Linked DNA regions of Homo sapiens: region 2 is linked to region 1. The links come from fine-mapping of genetic effects on gene expression. Tissue or cell type: whole blood. Region 1 holds a variant in brackets; the other region holds the start of a gene. All regions are shown on one strand. Distances are from middle to middle. Region 1 has its middle 21 kb from the start of WWP1. Region 2 holds the start of WWP1 (WW domain containing E3 ubiquitin protein ligase 1).

What was found.
Region 2: WWP1 starts here. The variant in region 1 is fine-mapped to the expression of WWP1 in whole blood (INTERVAL, PIP 0.92).

The regions. Positions count from the first base shown.
Region 1 is chr8:86,317,427-86,325,656 of GRCh38, forward strand. No RefSeq gene overlaps it. Among named protein-coding and RNA genes, the nearest start is that of WWP1, 21 kb to the right of the region's middle. The variant C/T (reference allele first, on the strand shown) is at 4,130.
Region 2 is chr8:86,339,054-86,347,471 of GRCh38, forward strand. WWP1 (WW domain containing E3 ubiquitin protein ligase 1) reads left to right here and starts at 3,494. Exons shown (of 25, transcript NM_007013.4): 1 at 3,494-3,877. WWP1-AS1 (WWP1 antisense RNA 1) reads right to left here and starts at 5,381. Exons shown (of 6, transcript XR_007060994.1): 1 at 5,220-5,381; 2 at 4,537-4,607; 3 at 4,029-4,223. RefSeq lists a silencer at 3,585-4,044.

The DNA.
Region 1 (8,230 bases):
ATGCATAAAAATAAAAATGAATCATCTTGACAAGAGACTAGTAATGACTTTTGCCTAACTGCTTCAGGAACCATCTTCTCTCTCTAATGAGAAAATATTTTTACACTGAACTAAAGAAACCTCATATTGGGCAGGGCTTATATATGATACACACCAATACACTGGAAAATTGGACCTAGACCACATTATCATGGTATGTTTTACAATTAGTTGAGTCATAAATAATTCTTCATAATGGAGTTCTGAATATCTTCTTCCAATACCATAGAACTAATGTTGTTTTTTCAAAGAGATGGAAAATTATAAAGCCCACTAAAACTTAAAACTGCTTTCTTAGTTTTAGCAGTCCTTTTATGAATTTTTCATTTCAAAGAGGATTTGCAAGGTGACAATAGTTTATCAAAGTAATTAAACTGATGTGGTCATCAAAATGGTTGCCACAGCAGTCATTAGTGATATAGTTCTAGCTGGAGAAGGAAAAACTTTAAACTTTGAGAGTTTAAACTTTGAGAGAAGGTAGAGGTTCCTGGAGGACTTATACAGATATCAAATTGGCTTTTGGAAATATGAATCTGAAACCCAGGAGCACACAGGGTTCAACATACAGTTTGTAAGTGGAGACTACCAGTGATCAAGGTGGTTGTGGAAATAAATATATGGAACTAATTTATCAGGAAAGGGGTTATAGGAAAGAAAGAATTAAAGCTCTAAAGAGTTTATAAGATGAAGAGAATTTAAAATGGAGCCCCAAGGAGGCCAAGGCAGGAGGATGACTTGAGCCCAGGAGTTCAAGACCAGCCTGGGCAACATAGGGGAACCTCATCTCTATAAATAATAAAAAAAAAATTATCCAGGAGTAGTGTGTGCCTGTGGTCTCAACTACTTGGGAGACTGAGGTGAGATGGGAAGATCACTTGAGCCAGTCGAAGCTGCAGTGAGCTGTGATTGCACCATTGCACTACAACCTGGGTGATGGAGTGAGCCCCTGTCTTCAGAAAAAAAAAATGAAGCCCCAAGGAACATCCACCCAGAAGTGGTGGTTGAAAAAAGAAGGGAGCGTGATCATAAATGAGACCAAACAGGAGACAATAGAGAGTAACATGAAGAAAACCAAAATAAAATGATACAGAAACCAAGGAAAAAGGAAGACACCAGGAGAGCTTGTTAAGAATGTAAAATATAGCTTATGTAAATTAAAAACTAGTAAGTGCCTAAGACGTCATCACTATGAAGGACAAAGTTCACCTGAATTAAGGTGAGGACAGTAAAGTGTTATGAGGAGGGGCCTGGTTGTAGGACTTGTGATTCTCTTATAACAACACTGTAGAAGTGACGCAGCTTGACTTTTGAGACTAGGAGGGAAAAGGCAGTATAGCTTCTGCCTTAGTTGCTGGGATGCTTATCTTTGGAGTCCGGTGAGCTTCTGTGGAAGAAGCCTAACTACCTGAGGCTGTCACAATAAGAGGAAGCCCAAGCCAAGTGGAGAAGCTATGTGTAAATGCTTTGGTAAGTGATTCCGGAGGGATTAAGGTCCCACCGAAAAGCCAGCATCAATTTGTCTCCAGGTGATTCCAGACTCCAGCGATCAGGTCACCCTCAGCTTTCAAGTCTCCTTTGTTGAAGTTCCAGATATTGGGAAGCAGAGACAAGTCACTCCCCTGAGCCCTGGTCTTGTTTCTGACCCACAGAATCCATGGCCATAAGGAATGGTGTTGTAAGCTACTAAATGTTGGTGCAATCACACAGCAATAGTAACTGAAACATCACTGAAAGAAATTACATCTCCAGAGGGAAAATATGTAATTTTTATGATACAACAATTTTTAAAGGATGTTAAATTGCAAAATATCTTCCCAACTCAAGCTCTAATCTTTCCAAATTTGGGGCATAGATAAAACTCAAATCTGCTGTATCTTTTCACAAGTTTCCCAGGGTTTACAAGAAGTAGCTCTTACTATAATTTCCTGTTACCTAATCTCCAAAGCCTATCCTAAATCCTATCTTCTCTCTGAAATCTTCAGTGACCACTTTTGACAGAAGTCATCATTCATTCCTATAAACTCTATTGTTGTTAACTTTTTTTTTTTTTGGTAACAAACATATAGCCTATCCTATCAAATAGATCTAATAAATCTGGGGACACATTTATGTTTCTTTGTATCATACAGATTAACGATTACAGTACACTGTCTATAACAGGTGGTCAATAAATATCTGTTTGTTTATTGATGATTATTAACCATTAATGCAAATATTATTACTGGATTTTAAAGCGGATTATTTTATCCTGCAACTTAATAAAATTTACTCTTCTTGCTTTCAAAGAAAGAGATTGTGTGCATAGTCATCATATAAAGCATACATCCTCTTAGTGTCTTCAAAAGTTACTTTTGTTAATAGAATATTATTTTCACTTTGATTATGCAACCTAAAGAGACATGTATTTGAAGGATGGTGGTGTCCATGATAATAAATGTAGTCACATAACATGTTCAGAAACACTGGGCCAAGTTTTTGTTTTGTTTCGTTTTTCCTTTTTAGAGACAGGGTCTCACTCTGTTGCCCAGGCTGGAGTGCAGTGGTGCAATCACGACTCACTGCAATTTGGACTTCCAGGCTAGAGTATTCCTCCCACCTCAGCCTCCAGGGCTGGGTAGCTGGGACTACAGACCACTAAGCCTGGCTAATTTTTTGTAGAGACGGGGTTACATCATGCTGCCCTGGCTGGTCTGGAACTCCTGGGCTAAGTGATCCTGCCACCTCGGCCTCCCGCAACGTTGGGATTAGAGGCTTGAGCTGCCACGCCTGGCCTGGACCAAGTTTTTATTCACTCAAACAATTTTCTAAGAATGGAAAAGGAAATTGGGAGAGGAAGGAAGACTGACTCAGCGGGAGGCTGTTTGTTAATTAGTAAACAAGTGCTGTATACATATTGAGCCAAGTGGCTGCTTTTCAAAAAAGCAAAGTACATGAGGAATCTCAGCTGTTTCCTGAAAATAGGCTCACTTACACTTCCCTGATGGAGACATGTTTTATTATCTGTGAGAACTGAGGAGTTTGTTTATCAAGAAGAAAGAGACAAAATGGGGGTGGGGGTGGGGTGAGGAAGTTGAAGTGTCATCTCGGCAGATGGCTGGAGAGAGAACGTGGTTGTGGCTGAGGCTTGTTCAATAGAAGCAAGCATATTCTTCTTACCAAAAGAACGGTTATTTTTCATTCTCGGAAAATTTACAATATCAGAATTGAGGGCAGAATTTGGGTGGGGACAGGGTGGGAAGTCAGGGACAGTTGTTTTCCAGATATGTTTAAAATGTAGGCATTCTAATCAAGGACTGTCTGGATCTCCAGGACTCTTATACCGTTCAAAGTACATGGCTGTATCACCAAGTTCATGGACTTTTGTTTATTTATTCAATAAATATTTACTGAGAACATATGAAAAGCCAGACATTGTTCCAGATGCTGAGAACACAGCACTGGGGGAGAAAAACCAGATTAAAGTCTCTGCTCTAAAGGAATTTATTTACATTTTACTGGAAGGGGCAGGAGACAGACAATAAGCAAATAAATACAATTTTCAGATGACGATAAGTATCATGAAGAAATTAAACCAGAGTAATATAACAGAGACTGACCTTGACATTTAGTAAAATGAAATCCTCTTCAAGGTACCAGACTGGCTCCACTGAGGTCTGACCCATCAGACCCCCTATAAGAATTAGAAGACAATGCATTCATCCTTATTGGACGATAGCTCTGAAGTCTTCTAACTGGTCCTAGACCTCCTTGGCTACAAAAGGCTCTTTAGGAGCCAGAAGTAGGAATGTTGTCCAGTAGCTCTGAGCTGCTATGAAATTATAGGCCTCTTTCAGCAGACACTCCTTGATTGAAATAATGGCTCCCTCCAAGCATGCACTGATTTATGGTCTGCTGGATTGTTTTTCTTGATTGTCTCAATGTTGTTGATATCAGATTCCATTTAACTTTGAGCCTCCTCTTCTTTCTCTACTGCCATCCCCACACTATACTGGTTGCTTTCTGTTGCAAGTCAAGCTTGCCTAATCCTACACAGGGCCTAACTCTGCCTAGCTATTGTGAGTTGGATGGAACATGCTGCTGACATGCCCCA[C/T]AATGATGACATCCATGATAAACCTGGTTTTTTGATTTCCTTGTGTCAGCACAACGATTTTGGCCAACATGTCTGTTCTTACAAATGTTCCAGCAATGCCTTCTAAATCTGTACTATGCAGAATATTTTGCCAACTGAAGTTAAGATGTTATTATTTGAACACTTGGTGGTAGGGCATCCTGAGTAAGATATCTAAACACTGGGCCTGCTAACTGGCAGAGAAAAACTCAGTGCATTACAAAAAATGTCAACAGTCTGAGAGGCATTCATGTGGGCATGAGTAGAGGAAGCACAGGCAGCCATGGGAATACCTAGTTAAGACCTGTTATGTCAAGGGTGTGGTCATTCTACCAAAGAGTATAGGGTTCCCTGAAATAGCTAAGCAGCTTCTCATTCCAAAACCATTTGCCTGGGGTGTTGAGAAAGACATTCCAATAGACAAGATGAAAAGGGAATTTATTTGAAGGATACATGGAAATCTCACATAATCCAACTGTAAATGCTGCCACTAGGCCTCATAAATGTTGAAAACAATCTTCAAACAAGCTACTTTCTCTGCTTTTTTCTTTCAGGAAACATGATTTCTTTTCTGCATCCCTCTGTACTTGAATTTCATTCTGCTTCATGTAGCCAGGCTTCTTTTACCAGGGTCGTCATTTCAGTTCCTGGGTAAACTTCAGCTTTACGTGAGCCCCTGCCCTGCTGTGAAGCAATTTGGTTCAGACTCGACCAGATGTTACAGCTCCAGCCCACCACTGATTACTAAGTCAAACTCTATGGCTTTTAGTTTGAATTCTTGTGAAAGAGAATTTAATTGGGTCAAGTGAGCTTTGGGTTGTTTTTCCACTTACCTGTGACTAGCCATTGGGGCTGGAGAATTTGTAATCCTGTGCTACAAACACAATAGCCACGTGTGTGGTTGGGGGAACATTTTCTTAGATGGTGAACACGAAGCAAATGATCAGCATTCAGGTCCAGTGAAGCTGTAAAGTCTAGCCACCACCCACAACTACCAAAGAGGCCACTCTTTTCAGGCCAACTGCGTGATAGGTGGTAGTTACCATAAAGATTCTGATGCCTCTAACTTTTTCTTTTTTTTCCTTTTTCTTTTTTTTTTTTTTTTTTTTGAGACAGTCTTGCTCTGTCACTCAGGCTGGAGTGCAATGGAGCAATCATGGTTTGCTGAAGCCTTGACCTCCTGGGCTCAAGCAATCCTCCTGCCTCAGTCTCCCAAGTAGTTGGGACCACAGTCATGGGCTACCATGCCTGGCTTTTTTTTTTTTTTTTTTGGTAGACAGGTTTTGCCATTTTGCCCAGGCTGGTCTTGAACTCCTGGACTCCAGCAATCCATCCACCTTGGCCCCCTAAAGTGCTGAGATTACAGGTGTGAACTACCGCACCCAGGCACCTCTGACTTATATGAATGTTGGAATTGCTCATTTTTGGGACAGAATGTAGTTCTAATTTGTCCACTTTCCAAAGGAAATTAAATTGAAGACATGCTAAAGATAGACATTTTGTAAATCTTGATCTAACAGAATTAGCATAACAAAGCAAGAACTTGTGAAGCGATAGTGAACAAGAATGTAAATAAAAAATAGTTGATGGTTTCCAGCTTCATCCATGTCCCTGCAAAAAACATGAATTTATCCTTTTTTATGGCTGCATAGTATTCCATGGTGTATATGTGCCACATTTTCTTTATCCAGTCTATCATTGACGGGCATTTGGATTGGTTCCAAGTCTTTGCTATTGTGAACAGTGCTGCAATAAACATACGTGTGCATGTGTCTTTATAGTAAAAAGATTTATAATCCTTTGGGTATATACTCAGTAATGGGATTGCTGGGTCAGATGGTATTTCTGCTCAGCAAACTAACACAGGAACAGAAAACCAAGCACCACATGTTCTCACTCATAAGTAAGAGTTGAACAATGAGAACACATGGACACAGGGAGGGGAGCATCATACACCGGGGCCTGTTGGGGGGTGGGAGGCTAGGGGAAGGATAGGATTATGAGAAATACCTAAATACCTAATGTAGATGACAGGTTGATGGGCGCAGCAAACCACCATGGCATGTGTATACCTATGTAACAAACCTGCACGTTCTGCACACGTATCCAGAACTTAAAGTATAAAAAGAAAAAATAGTTGATAGGCTAGAAAGGGGAGTCAGGCTTCCTTGCACTTGCACATGCTCCCTAGCATGAAGAACTGAAGTCTTCTCTCTAGCATGCCTTTCCCTTTACCATCTATTTGGCAAAGTCTTATTCATTCTTCAAGAACTGTTATAGATTAACCATCACTTCTTGTAGAATGTCTTTTCTTACAGGGCTTACTTTCCTCCCTAATAGGCAAAAAGTATTTCTCTTCTTTTGTCACAGGCATTTAGATTGAATTTCTGTAGGGCAGAAGCCTTGTTTTATTCTTCTTTGAATGCCCCTCAGCATATGCTACAAAACTTACATAGATTTTTAATGAATACTTATTGATTAAAATCATATAACCAAATAGATGTGGTTAATAACCTCACTTTACACAGAAATTAAGCCAATAGACTATAGATCTAGGCTCTACTGAAGTGCTGTACACCTAATTTTAGACAACACACATCACCTACACTATTCCCATTATTTCATCCAGTTGACAGATATATCAAGGGAATAATTCTTATATTTGTCTTACCACAAAGAGTGCAGGTGTTTGTACTCAACAGGATCAAAATAATACAGGATAAAATGCAAATTGTATGAGAAAGTAATTATTCTTTCATTCAAGTAATATTTATAGTGTACTTACTTTGTGCCCCACATTAGCTATAAATGTTGTATACTAAGGCAGAAAGTGGAGAATGTAAGCTAAGAACTTGATAAAGTAAACATGTTATATAATGATCAGATAATAATTCATACTGAATAAAGGCTAAAAGAAATTATTACAAACTCTCATAGAACTATTCACTTCTGTTTTGCAACAACAATGTGCTTGTAAATTATTTGTTGAATATCTGCCTGCTTTTTTCCCTGGGCTATAAGCTCCAGTGGAGCCTAGTCCAGGTCTAACTCATCAGTATTCTACTCCTGGTGTGTAGCACAATGCCAGCACATAATCAAGTATTTAATAAGCATATGCTGAATAAATAGCGAATAGATGGATGTATAGGGAGAAAAACAACACCAAAACTTGCATTTTAAAAAGAGTCCCCAAATAGGAAGAATTATAAAAGGGAGTATCAAGCTATCCTTTATTGAAGACAGTTTGAGAAAGGCAAGTTGTTCAAGAACATGAGTCTTTAAAAGTAAATTTAAAGAATAATTTAAAGGCTAAATTTATATTCGACTTTGGCAAAGACTAACAAGCTCAATAATTTAGTAATTTGCTTAACAACTAGATGTTGAATCCCTACAAAGGGCCAGACATTGTACTGGGTGCTAAAATGCAGGAGAGAATAAGATAAATTTGATCTCTGTTCACATGGAGCTTACAGGAATTCAGAAGATACTAGAAGGTTCGTAGATTATTTTCCTAACATGTAAAATAAAGCAAAACTCTATTATAAAAAGTAATGCATATCTGATCAAAAAATACCTATTAGATCTTTGATAATATTTGGGCAAGTATACTTACTAGTGACACACTAGGTTCTATGGTTTCCTGTGTAGTCTGTGACTGTTCATGCTATTACTCCTTGCTGGAATCTTTTCCCACCTAAGCCCCTCTTTTACTTGTCTAAATCACTCATCTTTCGGCCAGGTTCGGTGGCTCATGGCTGTAATCCCAGCACTTTGGGAGGCTGAGAGGGACAGATCACTTGAGGCCAGGAGTTCAAGACCAGCCTGGCCAACATGGCAAAACCCTGTCTCTACCAAAAATACAAAAATTAGCCGGGCATGGTTGTGGACACCTGTAGTCCCAGCTACTTGCGAAGCTGAGGCACAAGAGTCACTCAAACCCAGGAGGCGGAGGTTGCAGTGATCTGAGATTGTGCCACTGCACTCCAGCCTGGGTGACAGAGTGAGACTCTGTCTCAAAAATAAATAAATAAATAAATAAATAAATAAATAAATAAATAAATAAAATTAATCACTCATCTTTCA
Region 2 (8,418 bases), 22 kb after region 1:
GGGTGTATTAGTCTGTTCTCATGCTGCTAATAGAGACATACTTGAGACTGGGTAATTTATAAAGGAAAGAGGTTTAATTGACTCATAGTTCAGCATGGCTGGGGAGGCCTCAGGAAACTTACAATCATGGCAGAAGGGGAGGCAAGCACAACCTTCTTCACATGGTGGCAGCAAGGAGAAGTGCTGAGCAAAAGGGGGAAAAGCCCCTTATAAAACCATCAGATCTTGTGAGAACTCACTCACTATCACCAGAACAGCATGAGAGTAACCGCCCCCATGATTAAATTACCTGACACTGGGTCCCTCCCACAACACGTGGATATTATGGGAACTACAATTCAAGACGAGATTAGGGTTAGGGATGGTGGCTCATGCCTGTAATCACAGCACTTTGGGAGGTCGAGGCAGGAGGGTCACTTGAGATCAGGAGTTCAAGATCAGCCTGGCCAACATGGTGAAACCCCGTCTCTACTAAAAATTAAAAAAAAAATTAGCTAGGTGTGGTAGCATGTGCCTGTAATCCCAACTACTCGGGAGGCTGAGGCAAGAGAATCACTTGAACCCAGGAGTGGAGGTTGCAGTGAGCCAAGATCACACCACTGCACTCCAGCCTGGATGACAGAGCAATACTCCATCTCAAAAAAAAAAAAAAAAAGATGAGATTTGCGTGGGGACACAGCCAAACCATATCACAGGGTTTGTCATGTTGGTCAGGCCGGTATCAAACACCTGGCCTTAAGTGATCCACCTGCTTTGGGCTCTCAAAGTGTTGGGATTACAGGTGTGAGCCACAGTGCCCGGCCTGTAGACCTATTTTAAAACCACTACAGTTAGAGAACAATTTTTTAAACAAATGGTTTGGGGGAATACCATGAGCTATTTTTAAAGGAATAAAAGTTAGATTATCATTGCAAAATAAATCCAAGAAAATTAAATTATTTAATGAAAAAAGTAAAATAGTCAAACAAGTAGAAAAAAGTAAAGACAGATGAATTATATGATCTCAGGATGGGAAAGATGTATGAAGTAAAAAACAATGGAAGAATACAAAAATGGAAAAGATCAATAGTTTTACAAAGGACTAATATCTACATTGTGTGAAGCACCCTTTTGTGAAATACCTCAGTAAGAAAATGGACAAAGGACAAACAATAAGCTACCATACATACACATATGAAAACATACCATGATGATTTGGGCACATGGAAGAAGGACAATCACATACTGTCATGTAGTGTTGTGGGAAAATTGATAACCATTATGACAATCATTTCTTGATTATGTGCCATGCTCATGTGTTAAGTAGCTCTATGCGTGTTATTTATAGCAATTTATATATATTTTTTAATACAACATGTGGAAGCACTATATTAATTTTCTAGTTGAGACACAATTAGATTAAGCAATTGGCCAAATCTCTCAGCTCATAGGCAGCAGGAGGGTCAGGTTATCCATTAGGCACAGTAGACACAGTGCCTCAGGCTTATAACACTTTCGGGGGCCCATAAAAATGTTTTAATTTCTTTTAAAATCAGAAGGCAAAAAATTGAATATTTAGGTCAAAGAAAATATTTTAATGTATAATGTTAATATCTTTTTCTTCATACCAATGCAGTAATAAAATATATTTTGTAGTATTATTTTATGGAAGATGAGGCCCACACAGGTATAAGCACCTAGGGCCTGTGAAAGTCAGAATGTGGCACTGGGTGGCAGAGCTGTGTTTTGATGCTGGGCGATGTGATACCTGAGCCTATGCTCTTTCTGGAAGGTAGTTGCCAATATGTTTCAAAAGGGCTAAACTTGTTCATACTTTTTTATTACTTTTAATAATTTATCTAAGACAGTTAATAAGGACATGAACAATGGTTATGGAATACTATTTATAATATTGTTCATTTGAAACCAAACAGTCAATAACAAAAGGCTGGTTCAATATTGGGTGTCAGCTTGAGGACTAGGTGAGTACTAAGAGCTTCTGAACGGGGAGGAAATTGAGCAATGAGGGGAGCTGAAAGTGAGACACAGAGCAGGAAGAGGAGGCCTGCATGCATTCTGGAGAAGGAGTCCAGATCCCTGCTGGGGAATACCTACGGAATTTCTGAGGACGTGTTTGTAAGCACATTATTGCATCTATTTAAAGGGACCAGACAGCAAAAGCAAAAAGATGAAGAAAATCTTAGTACATGTTTAAAGCAGAGATGAGTGGGCACATATGGGGCACTGTGAAGAGTTTTTCATAACAGGAGAGATAGAGCATGTGAGCATCAAAGGAACCTTGAATATCACGTTAATCTTTGTCAGGAGAGCTCCGAAAAGCCAAAGAATGATTTTAAGCAGTGGAATGACACAGATGTATATTTTCGAATGATCTTTGTGGATATAATGTGCACCAATTTCAACTATGAAGCCAGAGGACAAGAACTAATGCATGGAGGTAGGCGGGAATGTGCATTGTTCAGTCAAGAGATACTTGTTGAATTCTGTACACACTCATGAAGTGTTGGGGTTGTTTTTGGTACACAGTTCTTTCAAAAAGCTCAGTTAAAATGGAAGGGGAGAGAGAACCAGAGGTTTTAAAATCAAGGGAAAATTTAGGACCTAATCTTAAAACGTGATTATGCTGAGGAGTTGTAGGCAGTGGAGAGGGTGAAGTTAAAGATGTGCCAAGGACCGCCCACAGTGGGGAGCAGGCAGTGGAGAGGAGCAGGGACATCTAGCCTCCGAGATAGAAGGAAAACTAGTAAGTCTGGGTGTGGACGTAGATATAATCTATGGGGGTTGGTCAGGTGGTTGGGCAAAAGCTGTAGAAATCCATGCCTGAAGGCTTCTGCTTCTCTGAAGTAGAAACCGGGTCACCTGGTAAGCAATGTGGTCCCACTGACTTCTATTTGCACATTGGCCTTTCTTCTAAAAGCAATACACATAACCAACAGTACTTTTCTAAACTAGTTGACTTTTCTGTAAAATGCAGACAGTAGACACTACTTTGTCAGATTGTTGTGTGCGTTAATTGTGCGGACACGTATACTCGGTCAATAAGTATCTGCTTTATCACCGGGCTGATGTGAGTGAGGACTAGGTGGTGGGGCTTCCACAGATGAACGTTTTGATTAATAAAAAATGGACTGAAAGTCTTCGGGTATGACCAATGGCTAAATGCAATTATTTACTCTTGCAATGTGTTCGAGGTCACCCAGCTAGGTCAAGGAGTATTTATGGACAGCCTACTTTTGCCCCCGGACCTTAAGAAGTCCTGCTCCGGGATCAGCCGCCGACCGGAAAGTCAAATTAGCAGTGCCCAGCGCGAGCTTAGAGCAGCCTCTTCCCAAATCTCAGCGGCGGCCCCGCCCCTTCCACACGTTCAGGCCCCGCCCCTCCCTACTATTGGCTGTCCGTCCCCCTCCGCTAGACTGCTCGGAAGACCCGGAGGAGCGGAGTTTTCCTAAGGCAGCATCCGAGCGCCCTCGCTGCGCATGCTCGGGGGAGGCGGATTCCGGGTCCGGAGTTGGAGGCTTTGGGCGGCCGCGGCGTAGCGCGCGGTGCCGGGGCCGGCGGGGAGGCGCGCGCTTAGGGCGCGGCGCCGGCGACGCGGCCACGCGGCGCGCTCCCGAGGAAGGGAGGTGTGGGGTCGGCTGGGGGTGGCGCGTGGACGGGGTGGGGGTGGGGGGAGGGTCGGGTGTCGGCGAGCTCCGCGTGCGGGTTCCGAGTGGCTGCTGGCGGCCTGGGCTGCCGGGGCCGACGCCTGGGTGGCTGCTGCCGCCGCGCCTGCTGCGAGATGGCGATCTTGGGCGCGGAAGGGTGAGGGCGCCCGCCGCAGGAGGAGGTGCCGCTGCCGTGGCCGCCCGGCTGCCGGGAGCCGACAGCTTCGCGCCGGGTAAGGACGGCGCGGCGCGGGGCTGGGGGTGCGAATGGGCAGGGCGGGAGGGGGCACGGGCCCTGAGCCTTGGCCGCGGTGCTGGGCGCCCGGCGCCGTCCGCCCCCGGGCTGGACCCTCCTAGGACCCGTCGGGGGACGGTCCGCCCTACCTTGGCTACCTTCTCCAGCCCGGGAGTCGGGAGTTTTCTGGGGTGGGGTCACGGGTCTTGCCCGGAGTTCGCCCTGGCAAAGGCCTGTGCCAGTGATCCTGGAGCGGAGCGAAGTGTTTCCGTGACTCTGCAGCCGCAGTTCTTAGGCTTCCTTAGCCTTCTCTTCGCCTTCCTCCACCTTTCCCTAACACCTCCCTGAAAACACAAATACATGGACTCATTGCCCGTTCCCTGACTTTCACCCCAATTTCAGCGTTGCAAACCAAGGACTCCAGCTTTGGAACGTCTTTTTCTGACATGTTTTTATCACTCTCCGTTCTTCACCGACTCTGCAGCTCCCCATCCCCCGCCCCCCCAGCGCAACCCCCACCTCCACCTTTTGTGACCTGGTAGGTTCCAGTGACCTTGCAGATTTTACCAGTCCTTATCTTGTCTGTGACTTACAGACTCTCCTTTCATCTTCGTGTTCTTTTTTTAAAAAAATTTAATTTTGTAGTTTGCTCCTTACCTTTACGACCTTTAAATGATCAGTCTTGTTCACAGTCCTTTCTTTGCTCTGCCGATTTGGAGTTTTCTCTGCTGTGGTAAATATATGAAACCTTCATTACCAAAGAAGAGTAGTGTCTGTTATAATTTTGACATTTTTACTCTTTCAGAATAAAATATTTTCCAGGGGCTTGATTTTGCCTTCTTTTTCTATTTGATAAGTTTAACAAATTTTTTTCTGTGTGTGTGTAGGTTAATGTGGAACAAGATTTTGTGTTTCTGCTTTAAAATGTTACTGGTAATAGTAGTGGGAAAAAAAATCATGTCCAAAATTATCTTTGTTTTCCCCGTTTGGTGTTTTTACCTGAAATAGTTGGTTTACAGTTACCTGCATTTTTTTTTTTTAACAAGAGTTCATGTTTATGTGTAAATCCACTTTACCTGCCTCACCAAATCTGTGTGTATTATACAAGCAAAATGCACCTTTTAAAGAAGAAAGTCGTTCTTTTATTGTGTGACTTGTTTTTAGCCATCAAGTAGTAAATTAGCTGCAACTAGAAATGATCATTTTTCATAAATGGTTAGTATTTTAAAAAATGGAAAGTGTAGTGGCCAAGTATTGGGAGCTACTCAGATTGAGAATTGTAAAGTATGTGGAATAGTTCTTTGGGACATAGCTTATCAACATTTTCAGATAGTTCTTACCTTAAAATGTGAAACTGCTGGTAAGATCTACATCAGGGTTTTGAAAAGCAATAATTATGAGCTACCGGCATAATACAGGATGTCGCAGATAAAGTTTCTGCCTTCAAAGAGATGGTAATCTTTGCTGTTTACCCCACGGTGGCTGAAATTTCCTTTACTTCCTTGTACAGTTGTTAAGCATTTACTGCATAATTGTGGGAGGTATTTTGGGAAATACAAAGATGAACCGATTAGCAATTTCTGCCTTCACACTAATTAGGTAGATAGTGCTATACACAAATGCCTTATTTGTCTTTTAATATATAAGTTTCATAAATGGTACCAAAATCCTCTCAGAAGTCAACTTCAAAGAGAGTAGAGCTCAGATCTTACTTGGCAAGGTAGGGATAAGAGGGTTAGTTTGTAGAGCTCCTGGCTTCTGAAATCGTGGTTTTGAAGGACGATTATGACTTTGGATAGGCAGGAAAGGTAATCCTAGCAGAGAGGTATCTCTAAGAGAGCACAGAGTTCCTGTTTGGGGAAAGGCAGGTAATTATGTTTGGGTGGAACATAAACTTATTTGTACCAGGATAAAGGGTGATAAAACTTGAAGTAAAAATTTGGACCAGTTTATGGGTTGTTTTTAATGCCAGACTTATGACCTTGGATTTACCCGGTGGTGGGGCTTCCACAGATGATTTTGAATTGGGAGTGAAACAATTTGAACACTTTGTTTCAGAAGGATTAGTGGGATAGAGGTCTGTAGTGTGAACTGAGGTAGGGAGACCCTGGAGGTAGAAAGACCTCCCAGTTGTTGTAGTCATGGATAGTGAGGATCTGAGCTGTGGTGCACGCGAATGGAAAGGAAGAAAGGAAGTCGAATAGCCAAAATTTGATGAGAGGGCAAATGAAAGTAAAAATAACTGATTCTGATCCAGGTTGGTTGGGAGAACAGTGGTACCATTTTGAGCAAGATCATGAAGCTTTACCCTCAGCATATGTGTGCTACTTTACAACTTTTTGGAGATTACTAATTCTTGGTAAAATGCTGGCCTGGAAAATTTCCATATGCGCCTATGCTTTGTGGATATAATTTTAGGGGAGTCCATGGAACACCTGAAAGTCATCCATGACACTCATCTCAGAATTTCTTGGAGCTTTTTTTATTTTCGAGGCAGGATTTCTTTCACTCCTGTCCCTGTGGCTGGAGTGCAGTGGCGCCTTCTGGGCTCATTGCAACCTCCGCCTCCCAGGCTCAAGAGATTCTCCTGCCTCAGTCTCCCGAATAGCTTGAACTACAGGCGCTTGCCACCACACCCGGCTAATTTTTGTATTTTTTTTTTAGAGATGGGGTCTCACTATTTTGCCCAGGCTCGTGTTGAACTCCTGAGCTCAAGTGATCAGCTTGCCTTGGCCTTCCTAAGTGCTGGGATTACAGCGTAAGCCACCCTGCCGGGCCTACTGGGAGCTTTTTAAAACAGTAGAACCTTCAGGTTCTTCTGTGTACTGATAAGAACTCTTACTGTAGAGATATGCTGTATATATACAGAAACACAATATTACATTTGTGTTGTGGTTTACAGTTTACAGAGAATTTTGACTAATGTTATTTGCTATTATATTACACAATAAACTATTCCTGGAGTTTAAATGATTTGCCTGAAGCATCATTCAGCTGGTGGGTAAAGTGGAATCAGGAGATTGTTGACAATGATGGTGTTCTTTCATGTATGAAGATAATGCAGTGGCTTTACCATCAATTAAATATAGTTACTGCCTTTAAATGACCTTGTCAGTAAGACTAGATGATCCCACAAGATTCCTTCTAGTTTTTAACATTTTGTGATTCTCGAGTCCTAGACTTTCATCAGAGTATCTACTCTCCTTGTTTAATATGTGCATGAGAGCTGGTGAGTCTGAGGGATGAATTGGGTAGAGAAGAGCAGTTAGCAATATCAGATCATTCATTTGGATTGTTACTTTCTTTGTATGTCTCACTTTGGGCTGGGGAGTAGGGAGGAGAGAGGTGATGTAAGTGAAATAAGAAACTTTAAGAACTTTATTGGGAGGCTGAGGCAGGAGGATGGTGTGAACCCGGGAGGCGGAGCTTGTAGTGAGCCGAGATTGCGCCACTACACTCCAGCCTGGGCAACAGAGCGAGACTCTGTCTCAAAAAAAAAGAACTTTATCTTCTCTGTTCATTTATACCTTCAGAATATTCTTTTCTTTCAGGAAGCCTTTATCAAATAAAAATGGAGACTTCACAATGTAAATGAAGATTCCTACTCAATTTTTTTTGGGTGGATTAAGTAGCTAGCTAGTACGGTTAAAGTGTAGTGCGATTGGTAAACAGTTGACTTTTCTGCACCTGTAAGATTATCTCCCTGGTAATAGGTAATCATAGCATGTTATTACATGTTAATAAACTTTGATTTCATAATTATTAGAAAGACTGTTGTTTTTTACTCTTTGTATAAAAATATGATACAATTATAATGAGCATTGGAAAATCCAATAAATTGCCCTTTATAGTGGTATCCAAGGAACTAGTTACTAATACTTAATGGAGGAAAAATGATAAAAACATACACAGATGAATTTTATTGTTTTTGCTGGCATTAAGAATTGTACTATACCTTATGTTAGTATAGCATTTCACATTTGTAAATAATAACTATATTTATCATTTGGTTCTCATGACAACTGATAAGTTGGTGTGTTAGGAAGTAATAACTGCTTTATATTTTATTTTATTTTATTTTATTTATTTATTTTTGAGACAGGGTCTTGCTCTGTTGCCCAGGCTGGAGTTCAGTGGCACAGTCATGGCTAAACTGAAGCCTAGACCTCAGCCTCCCAAGTACTTGGGACTACAGGTGTATGTCATGACACCCAGCTAAATTTTTAAAATTTTTTATAGAGATGGGGTCTTGCTGTGTTTCCTCAGGCTGGCCTCGAACTCCTGGACTCGTGGCCCTCCCACCATGGCCTTCCAAAGTGCTGGAATTACAGGCGTGAGCCATCGCTTCCAGCCAATCATTGCTTTTTGGATGAATATGCTGAGGCTAAAAAAAAAGTTTAAAAAGTTAAATTTCCAAAGTATGTGGCTAGTTAGTGGCCACAATTAGAACTACAACTAAAACCCTTATTTTTGTTCCTATGTCAGTATTCTTTTCCCACCAGACTTCTTACTCTTCATGTACAATGGAACATCATTAGT